Linked DNA regions of Homo sapiens: regions 1 and 3 are each reported to be linked to region 2. Evidence: microRNA targets listed by miRTarBase, many of them from high-throughput screens and not tested one by one. Region 2 holds a microRNA gene; each other region holds the end of a gene's coding sequence. Distances are between the middles of the regions.

Region 1 (3,000 bases), 77 Mb from region 2:
CAAGCTAAGCCTAAGCCTTAGGTAACATCATGCCACTTACATCATCTCAGAGAAACTAGGGCATTATTCCACTAGAAGAGCAATCTTGCCACAGTGTGAAAACGTTGAGTAGTGATCTTGCTGCCCCAGCTAATGGACCAAGTGGCCTCAACTTGACAGCCTCTTTAAAACTCAATGTTTGCCTAATCAAAGATCATCTGGCTAAACTGCTCCCCCACTTCTGCTTAGCTACTTTGGAAGCACAAAAGTTACCCCTTTCCATCCTTGGCCCTTCCCTGGTTGGTACATCTAGTTATGAGATAGACGCGCACCACTTAACAAATCACTCCCTTTTGACCGCAGGTTGTTTCTCTTCCATATTTGACGAGGCTGGCAACAGCTCCCGAATCTTGGCCTAGCACATCACGAATTGGGAAGCTAAAGCTTTAGCTTAGAATGCCAAGTGACAAGGACATGGCTGAAGCAGGAGGGGAAATTCTGGAACAAGTGCCTCTGGGCAAACCTCACAACCGAGTTTTTTAAATTAGTGGTCATTTTCTAGAACTAGAGGAACACATTCAGGACAAACAGTTCTGATGGGAGAGCGAATGGCTATGAACACATAAGAGATCAGGCTGTGACCGTGACCATAACTCGTACTCATCCAGGACCCGACAGGGCGGAGAGGACACCGCCTCCAGACATGCAAGTTTCTCAACAGTGAATTTTAAGAAAAAGCTGCTTTCTCTTAAAATTAATAGCACAAAAACACTCCTGCGTGTTTCATAGCCTCAAACATACACACCCAAATATTAATGCTGGGCAATAGCAACACTCACCCACAACACAGTACTGTATCCTTCATTGCTACGGACAGTAATGATGTATATACACATCAGCCTTCAAAATGGTATTTAGTGTCACCACTTGCTACTGTGGCCATCTCCCCTCACCCCAACCTGGATAAAATGTTACACTACCCACTAATATAACCACTGACACACAAACCAAGCTCCTTCCAGTTTAACATTGAACATCAATCTACATTTCCAGTGAATGAGCTAAACTTATGAGCAGGCCATTCAACTTTTCATGATACATTTAGTGCTCAGAAATGGTTGATTCCATTAGCCTGCCCTATAGCTCAGGTGGCCCAAGATGGAGCCTATCATCTTCCTTGGGGTGTTTGGTGTTTCCAAGTAGGAGCAAAAAAAGGATACCGTCCCCTACCCCACCACCCCATCCCACATACCCTCACTGGCATCCAGGAGACCAGCAGCAGGCTCAAGACCCCAAATGTTGGGCACCACAAATAATGTGATATGTGCCAGGAGCACGGGGGGTAGGGGTGAAAGAGAAAAACAATAAGGCCTTAATTTTTGACACACCATACACTCTGAAATTGCTGTTTAGCAATGCATTTGGCCCCACAAAATAGGGGGTGGAGGTGGGACAAAAGTTAAACCTAGATAGCCTCAGTCCTAATCACCCACCTTCCTATACCTTGGAAGGCTGCTGAACCTTGCCTATGTCGTTCTCCTAACTCCTCCAGACTTCATCTGAATGCCACTCAGACACAAACAAAATCACACAGTAGCTTCAAGTAGCCCTCTCCTTCATCTCAGCCCTAAGTGAGCTGGCCACTGAGTAATAAAAGAAGCTACCACATTTATAGGGAGGCCAGTCTCCAAATACAATGGAGTGGGGGTTTGTTCACTGCTGTGAGTCAGAAATTGACTGTTATAATAGAGAAGAGTTTTAAAAATGTAATACTGTTTATTTAACTTCAAAAACATTTCAGCATTCTAAACATACAAAAAAAATAACAGAACGTTGCGAATCGTGTTTAAGTACAGGAGGTTCTTGAACTTTCATTGATGCAGTGACTCTTTGCTTTGCTGACAATGAAGAGTTCTATAGTTTGTTTAAAAACAAACAGTTTAAAAACTACCGCACTTAAAAAAAAAAAATATTCTCATGCCAGCTGACCCCCCTTTGTCCACAGCTAAGATGGCAGCAGAATGCTATGTCACTATATACAGAAACAAGACAACCTGAAGCTAAATGGATGCCCCCTGCAGAGTCAACAGGTCCAGCCTCACAGTGCACGCCCTGAGCTACAGCCTCTCCCAAAAGGCATCTTCCCCACAGCCTCAACGCCGAGCAAGGAGCATCAAGGGTTTGTCTCGGTTGTTTTGTTCTTTTTACAAACTATAGATATATACAGTTGAAAACTCAGGATTTCTAGCCAATAACCATAGTTACCACCACCTTACAAATAAAAAGAAAATGCCAGAAACATCTTTAAATGCCTTGTCACACCAACAGCAAAGTGCACAGAGTGAGGAGAACACGAGAGTGCCTTTTCATTTTAAAAATGTTTGGAAATATGTACAACTTTGATACAGTTTCAGGGTGCTCCAGACACCCATGGCCACTTCATGTAAACCACTGACAATTTCTAGAGCACTTTGAGAGACTACAATATGATCGTGATCAAATTTTGTAATTAAACCTAATGAGGGCAACAGACACTTCTCAAATAAGAGATGTGTCAATTACGGCGCTCCCCTACTCTAAGTATTCACAAGGAGACAGATAAACAGTTTCTTTATTCATCCTCCTCCTCCTCCTCCTCCTCTTCTTCCTCCTCCTCTTCTTCATCTTCCTCTTCCACCTTTTTCCGGGCAACTTTAGCAGGACCCTTTGCACCATCAAACTTTCCTTTCGACTTATAGTCAGCAACATCCTAGAGGAACAGGGACACATTTCAAATGAGTATGCGGCTGTTTTAACACAAAGTAGAAACATGCAGTCCTCATCTCAGGTAAGAGGACAGGAATTGAAATCAAGTAAGACAGTGCTGCTATCATATATATCTGAAGTGTTTCCATATATGAATTTGGTTCTTAGCCATTCGAATTTAAAAGTTAGTGGGTGTTCAAGTGTCCTTCAAGTCACATTAGTAGGACTATCAAATCCTCTGTTAACATTTTTTTTTCCTTAAAGAGTAAGGAAAAT
Region 2 (4,466 bases):
TCAGCCAGAGTCCAGGCGCGGTGGCTCAGGCCTGTAATCCCAGCACTTTGGGAGGCCGAAGCGGGCGGATCACAAGGTCAGGAGATCGAGACCATCCTGGCCAACATGGTGAAACCCCGTCTCTAATAAAAATACAAAAATTAGCTGGGCGTGGTGGCGCATGCCTGTAATCCCACTCGGGAGGCTGAAGCAAGAGAATTGCTTGAACCAGGGAGTCGGAGGTTGCAGTGAGCCGAGATCACGCCACTGCACTCCAGCCTGGCGACAGAGCAAGACTCCGTCTCAAAAAAAAAAATCAGCCAGAATCCCAGAAAAGTTTAACACTTGGGGTATGTTCATCCAACAACTTCCATGTACATACACAAACATGAATTCTTATTTTACAATGATTAGATGAAACTATACTATTGCCCTTTAGCCCTTTTTCAATTAATATACTGTATACTTCTTTCCAAGTCAAATATTTATCTTCAAGACTATTTTTATTTTTAATGGCTATGCTGTCCCATTACATGAATACACCAAAATGTATTTAACCAAGTTCCTATTCATGACTAGGTAAGTTTTTCCATTATTTACTGTTATGAACACCGTGAATATGCCCATATCTAAATCTTTTTTTAAATAATGTTAAACATATATTTGGGGGTATATCCCTATAAATGAATACAAATCTTACAGTGTAAGAGATTTGCAAAGATCAGTAAAACACATCTCTACCCTTGAGTTTAAATCAAAGGAGAGAGACACAAACAGGTAACATTTACCATTATCATGTCCATGGATAAAGATAAACAAAATTTCATGGTGCTTCCTAATTGAAACTGCAGCTGTTGCTAACAGAAAAGGCTCAAAGAATACTATTAGACAGTAGCCCAAATTAAAATTCCATTTGCTAGAATTCCAAAGTTATTCTAATGCTAAATATTGCCTCATTGGCATTTCAATATGACATTGTTGTTTCTCCTTTAGCAAGCCTTAAAGGAGAGAACCAAGCAGAAGCTGCTCAGAAAACCACCTACCCTAAAGGCAGAGAAGTGAGTAAGGTGCAGGGCAGTATATGACACTGGACCTGGACTTCCATCTTTCCTTCCCCCTACTATTTCCAGTAAACAACAGTGAGCTATAGCCATTTTCTTTCAGAAACAACGTGGATTCTCTCCCTGGGACTCTCATTCCTGCACAGATCTGCTTACACATAGTTGGGCTGTGCTGGTATTCATGCTGACTTAGAAGACAAAAATAAGAATGAAAAGAAGCTTTTTCAGCACCATGATGGGTCAGATACAGATGACATTAACACAGAAGACAGACAGATTTTTAAAACCTATTCAACAAAGATGAGTTACTGTGATAACACAAACAGTCCTGAATCTTATAGTAACATTTCAGTCACAGGCGCATATACAATGGTGGTCCCATAAGATAATAACACCACGTTTTTACTGTACCTTTTCTATGTTAGATATGTTTGGATATACAAATACTTACCACTGTATTCCAAATGCCTACAGTATTCAATACAGCAACATGCTGTACAGGTTTGTAGCCTAGGAGGAATAGGCTATACCATATAGCCTAGGTGTGTAGTAAGCTATACCATCTAGGTTTGTATAAGTACACTCCCCTATGATGTTCACACAACAACAAAATGACTTAATGATCCATTACTCAGAACATATCCTGTCTTTAAGCAACACATGACTGTATAGTTAAATGTTAATTATAAAATCTAGGTGTTGGGTACATGGCTTTTCACCGTACAATTCTTTCAACTTTTCTGTATGTATGTTTGACAACTTTCACAATACAATTTTGGGAAAAATCCAGCAAGCAGCTTTAAAAATATGGCTGTAAGACCTTTCCTTCTATTATATTTTATTCCTAGGATGATCCTATCCAACGAGATGAACCTATTCAGTGTTTCCTCCATTTTGTTTTAGATTTAGCTTTCTCAAATATGACTTTGAGCTCTCCGACTTTTTAATGAAGTGAAATGAATCAACATGTATTCATAGGCAGGTTACCAAGATAGTACATGTAAAGTTGGGGAGGCACAAGGGGAGGGGCTCTAAGCTCTTGGAAGTCTAGGCTCACTATCTGTATACATCTAAATAAATGAGTATTTCAGACACCCCACTTCTTCATTTAAAAATTAGTGTTAGGGACCCTCTAAACATTTGCCTCAGCTTACCTTTCTGCCTTATCTCACATTAAGTCCTTATTTCCCATATTCTCATTGCAAAGAACTGTGTAGGAAGGAGGGGGGCAAGGACGAAGGCACCAAAGCATGCTATGTCCACGTGCTTCAAGTTTGAATATAATAAAAGGTATTTCTAGAGTAGAGGTTCAAAGCTTGATGTTGAAGGGCAGGGTATAACTGACTGACTGCAGGACCCTGGGGGAGGTCTTATAATCTTCTACTTTAAAACATGTCTTAGCTGGCTTATCTGTAAAAGAGGAAAAAGACTTGTCACAAGCAATGACAAATGAAGTAAATAAATATGAATTTCTGGTCTGGTGAATGGAATGAGAAATGAAACCATCACTGTCGAGTGATGATCCAGAGTGGGCACAGATCTTTTTCTACAAAGGCTTTGTGGGCCACAATGTCTCCAATATATTTAATGGCAAAAACAGCAACTACTTTTGCACCAACCTAATAGCTACTTAATTGTGCCACTGGGCCGCAAAAGCGGCCCCAGGTAAAACATCGATGAATGAACATGGCTGTGTTCCAATATAGAATGGTATTTACAAAAACAGGTAGCCCATGGGCAATAAAGTTTGCCCACCCTTGGTTTAGAATATGGAGTCTGGTTGGGTGCAGTGGCTCACACCTGTAATCCCAGCACTCTGGGAGGCTGAGGGAGGTAGATCGCTTGAGTCCAGGAGTTCAAGAACAGCCTGGGCACCATAACGAGACCCCTTCTCTACGAAAAATACAAACATTAGCCAGGGGTGGTGGCACACACCTATAGTCCTAACTCAGAATGCTGAGGTGGAAGATCACCTGAGCCTAGGAGTTCGAGGCTGCAGTGACCCGTGTTCGCACCATTGCACTCCAGCCTGGGCAACAGAGTGAGAACCTGTCCCTTAAAAAAAAAAAAAAAAGAAAGAAAAATGCAAAGTCCTATCTAAGAATACTATTTGGATGATTACCTGGGCCCTGAGGATGAGGCCCCAATCTAACAGTTATCACTCAAGTCCCACCAAGAAAGCAAGTGTCAGCAATAGCAACAGTTGCAACATCTGTAAATATCAAGGACTGAAATCCAAACACAAAAATGGCATTGTCTCATGAGAAACTCTTAGGAAGATATATACAGAAATATCAAATTTCTGACCACATGCTTTTTGAAGAAACAGCTGACAATCCAGAGCCTGTGGAGCTCACTTTAGCAGGCACACAATAAATGTTTGCTGATGAGTCATTCATTTATTCATCTAATAAACATTTACTGAGGCCTACTAATGTGCCAGGCTGGGCTCTGGAGATGAAGACACCTTCCTTGCCCTCAAGGAGCTCACAGTCTAACTGATAACAGGAAGAGAGACAGGCATATACACAGACAATTACAATACAATCTGATAAGTGCTATAACACTTATCAGGTTGTATTATAATGGCCGATGTAAAATTTCTTCCCAGGGGGTGCTGCTCCAGGCTGCTGCTGGCTGTAACATCAAGAGAGGTGAGGAACAAATTATAGAAATCAAAGGTTAAATGCTTTTCGGTTATTTCAAATATTCAGGCTTTCCCTAACCCGTGGCCATAGACGGAATTGGGAACTAGACACTGGCATGATGTAAAATGGGACTTCCATGCACAGACTTCCAATAAAGGAACTTCTCAATCCCCTCCTCTAAAATATGAGCTTTTTTTTTTCCTTTTTGCTTATACTCCTCTTAACCTCCCCACCCTACTACCCACATGAGCCTGGTTTAATATCTACAGCTAGCAAAATGCTGAAAAATGGGAGCTTACAACTAACTGGATTAACCCAGTGTAACCGGATAGCAAAAAGCAGTAAGTAATAGCTCATTTGGCACTTCTAAATCCAATAATCCTCATCCTTCACTGGAAAAAAAAAGTTAGAATGTTATTAAATACAAAATAGATAATATACAGATCAGAGTAGGAATAAGTTAGAAAAGTTTATTTAATAAACATAATTAAACAGATTCTCTAAACTAGAAATAACATTCAGTTTCAGGAAACCAGAATTAGACCCCTCCAAGACCTTTGAGAATATCTAATTCACCTATGTATTATAAACAAGAAAAATGAAACAGAGAGATAACACACTCTGCCCACTCCCTTTTCAAAATCATGTGAGTGATAGTAACAGACTCCTTGAGGCAAGATTATTACTGTAATAGTTATTTGGTTCAGATGGTTTTATACAAAGATAAGATGGCATTTTTCTGTGCCTCATACCTTTCTTAATAATACCTAGGTTTTTA
Region 3 (3,000 bases), not on the chromosome of region 2:
CCACCACAAATGAGACCAACATTATCCTAGTTTGGTAACTGGTCTGCGCACATTACACAAGACTCGACCAACCGACACACCCTGCCTGACACTCCACTCAGTGTGCAGAGGCACCCAGGCCACCAGCCTGCACAGCCCACACCCCAAGGGTGCCACGAGCCCAACTCCAGCTGCGTCCTCAGCACTGGATGGCTGGCCAGCTTCCCCAGGGGGCACCCGCACGGCCTCCTCGTCCCTCTCGGGCAAGGCTATCAGCCAGAGCACCTCCCCTTTGACACTGACCGGCGTCCCCAGCCCCGCCTTGTTACTGCATCCGTCTGAGGTACAAGGTTAGAAGCCACAGACACCCGAGCTGCAGCCTGACCCACACAAGCTGCGGGCGCAATGGCGCTTTGCAGACAAGACAGCCTGCCCGTCTGCCCTTCTTCTCGGCTTCCCTTAAGACACAAGGTGACGACACGGACGGTTTCAAGTGAGTGCAATCTGGAAATAATCTCAGTGCAGGGGAGGGGTTGAGGCCAAAGATGTCGTGACCTGGTCCCCGCTGTGGCCAGGCCGGGCCCACACGCACCGCCAGAGCCCCGGTCACCCACACCTGCCTCCCAGGAAGGCAGCTCCAGAAACCGACTCTACTGACCCTGGACCCCAGCCCCTGCGGTCCCCTCATTTGGGCTCTGCACACTGACCTGCACACTAAGAAGGGCTTTGCTTGCAAACACCTGAAGTGCTGACAGCTTGACGAGTCTACAAAGTGTGCAGCCACCGACTCCTGTCACCGAGGAGCACACAACAGTCACGCCTGTCCCTGGCTGGCACTGGCTTCCGGCACGTTCATACCCTGACAGTGACTGTGGCAAGGCCATGTGGAGGGCACTGAATGGCCTTTGTTGTCCTTACTTCAGATTAGTCGAGGCTGGGATCTCAAGGGTTAACACACTATTCAGAGGGGGGTTGCGAAGCCCCTCTTCCTCCTAAAAATCAAGTCGCAGCCAGGCCCTGAGACTTCTGCACTCCCAGCTGGCGAGGAATCGGCTTTGGTGAGCCCTGGATCCGGCCCCTGGGCCTTCAGATGAGGGTGGGAAGCCTCAGGCAAGGGGTGGCCCCCAGATGAACCCACATTTGGTGTGGTTTGGGTCGGATCTTGATTCGGGTCAGGCCACTGCCACCCCACATCCGCTGCTTTCTTGCCTCCAACTGTTTTATAGTCGTCAGGACGAGAAGCCGGAGAAACCAGCTAAGACGGGAGCTGCGCCTCGAGATCCTGACAAGTACAGCCAGGTCTCAGAGAGGGGATCTACAGTCTTAAAGCCGCTAGAGGATCAAGTTGCATAGAGTGAGCTGCCACGGACGCCCGGCCGAGGTGAGGAAGCCAGGGGTGCCGTCCCCCAGAGAAGAAGGGCCACAGTGCCCAGCCCACGGGGCTCCCGCTGGCCGGAGGGCTCGCAGCAAAGCTGGCAGCACTTTCAGTAGTCGGACTTGCCCTGTCCAAGCACGAGATTCACAAGGCCATTCTCAAGTTTCCACACATCCAGAAAATGTTCTTGAAGTCTTGAAAGTCAGCCCTCTGCGATCCTGGGACACCGTGGCCTGGCAGACACACCGTGCGTGAGCAGGTACCCAACTGCCACCCGGACACAAACACACAATCTACAAAGTGCCACCAGCGGCAGGAGACACGGCAAGACCAGAGGCCCATCAAGTACATTAAACAGTCGTTCCTTTAAATACACAGAAAATTCAAGTAATTTATTTAAAAACTGCTTTAGTTTCATCTTGAAATATATATACGTGTATATATATATTTGCTCTAGAATGATCATATTGCAGCATGATTCTCATGCATTTCAAAGTACTTTATTTAAAAAACAACTTGAGGCAGCAAAAGTATTAATTACAATTGTCTGACTTTATCTGTGTGATGTGCGGGGCCTCCCTGTCTCCTGATCTCAGTAAGCCTACACCGACCGTTTCAAATAGGCTTAGTTCTAAAGAGACTGTGGTTTGGAAAACATTTCCAAATAGCTGCAGTACTTGCCCGAGTTTTGCTTATTCGTTGAAACCAGAACGACTGTGCGGAGCCCTCCGGTGACACGGGCCTTAGCTGTCCCAGACGTCTGCGTCCCTTTGCACCTGTCCCGATTCCAGCGTCGAGCAGGTGAGCAGGCGAGGAAGGCATGGAGTTCCGACAGGTTCCAGCACGCATGTCCCCTTCGCAAGCGGGGGAGGCCCTCGCACATCCACACACCCGAGGTAGCCTTGCGGCGGGACTTGGGAGGCAGGGCCCGCTGGGAGCTCTGCTCTCAGGAATCCCCAGCAAATGGTTTAGAGACGAATCAAAGTGCAGTGAAAGTCAACGTTTCCTTCCCCCTGACGTTGGGAGCGGTCTGGAGGGGCAACCTGGCCTCCTAGGAGAGTCCTTCAGACGGGACGAGCGGGGTCACATGGCTGGGCGCAGACACACTCACACGCGCACGCAGGAGCTCGTCTGGAGCTCACGCTCCGCCCCCAGGTGGTGCCCAGCCCATCCCTGGGCAGGGTGTCTGGGAGCCACCCCTGCAAATCACTGTCTTCTGCCCAGGCCCCCCGGACCAGCCTCCTCCCAGCTTTGGTGTGCGGTCGCTGCCCAAGGACAGGGCTGCCCTGGGCACAATGTGTCCAACTCGCTGAGGAAAAGAAGATACGTCATTCTTCTAAGAGAACCACATTGTGGAAAAGAAAATTTTTTTTCTAAAATAATCATAAAGAAAAATACTCTCCAACAGCTGCGGCACCAGCCAATGTGACGAGATCTGACAGACGTCAATACCTGCAGGCGTCTACAGAGAGGAAATTTGATAAAAATATTTTAGTCACTGACTACACTACCATTATCTGAAGCATTCAGATAAGACTTAGCAGAGAATGTCAGATTTTGTTTTCAATTATAATTTTAGAAATGCAAAATCTTATTTTTTCTAAGTTGCTTATTGTCTATATAAATGTTTTATATCATTTAAAAAC

What was found. The annotated mature microRNA hsa-miR-545-3p reads UCAGCAAACAUUUAUUGUGUGC and lies in region 2 at 3,406-3,427, opposite strand. An mRNA with a match to its seed (bases 2 to 7 or 8) in the 3' UTR can be bound and repressed. Matches are read on the target gene's strand: a 7mer-m8 pairs with bases 2 to 8, a 7mer-A1 pairs with bases 2 to 7 and ends in A, and an 8mer does both.
Region 1: miRTarBase lists HMGB3 as a target of hsa-miR-545-3p. Seed matches in the 3' UTR shown: 7mer-m8 at 2,305-2,311.
Region 3: the mRNA of SLC45A4 is a reported target of hsa-miR-545-3p. Seed matches in the 3' UTR shown: 7mer-m8 at 2,312-2,318, 7mer-m8 at 1,877-1,883 and 7mer-m8 at 1,444-1,450.

What each region holds. Positions count from the first base shown.
Region 1 is chrX:150,987,505-150,990,504 of GRCh38, reverse strand. It overlaps HMGB3 (high mobility group box 3), which reads right to left. Exons shown (of 5, transcript NM_005342.4): 5 at 1-2,728. The coding sequence ends at 2,591. Among named protein-coding and RNA genes, the nearest start is that of HMGB3, 5.7 kb to the right of the region's middle.
Region 2 is chrX:74,283,721-74,288,186 of GRCh38, forward strand. MIR545 (microRNA 545) reads right to left here and starts at 3,489; the gene lies at 3,384-3,489. All of the region lies in intron 1 of FTX (FTX transcript, XIST regulator), which reads right to left. MIR374A (microRNA 374a) reads right to left here and starts at 3,637; the gene lies at 3,566-3,637. LOC124905199 (a long non-coding RNA gene) reads right to left here. Exons shown (of 2, transcript XR_007068266.1): 2 at 4,145-4,466. RefSeq lists an enhancer at 1-599.
Region 3 is chr8:141,208,882-141,211,881 of GRCh38, forward strand. SLC45A4 (solute carrier family 45 member 4) reads right to left here. Exons shown (of 9, transcript NM_001286646.2): 9 at 1-2,816. The coding sequence ends at 2,691. Among named protein-coding and RNA genes, the nearest start is that of SLC45A4-AS1, 44 kb to the right of the region's middle. RefSeq lists an enhancer at 1-450.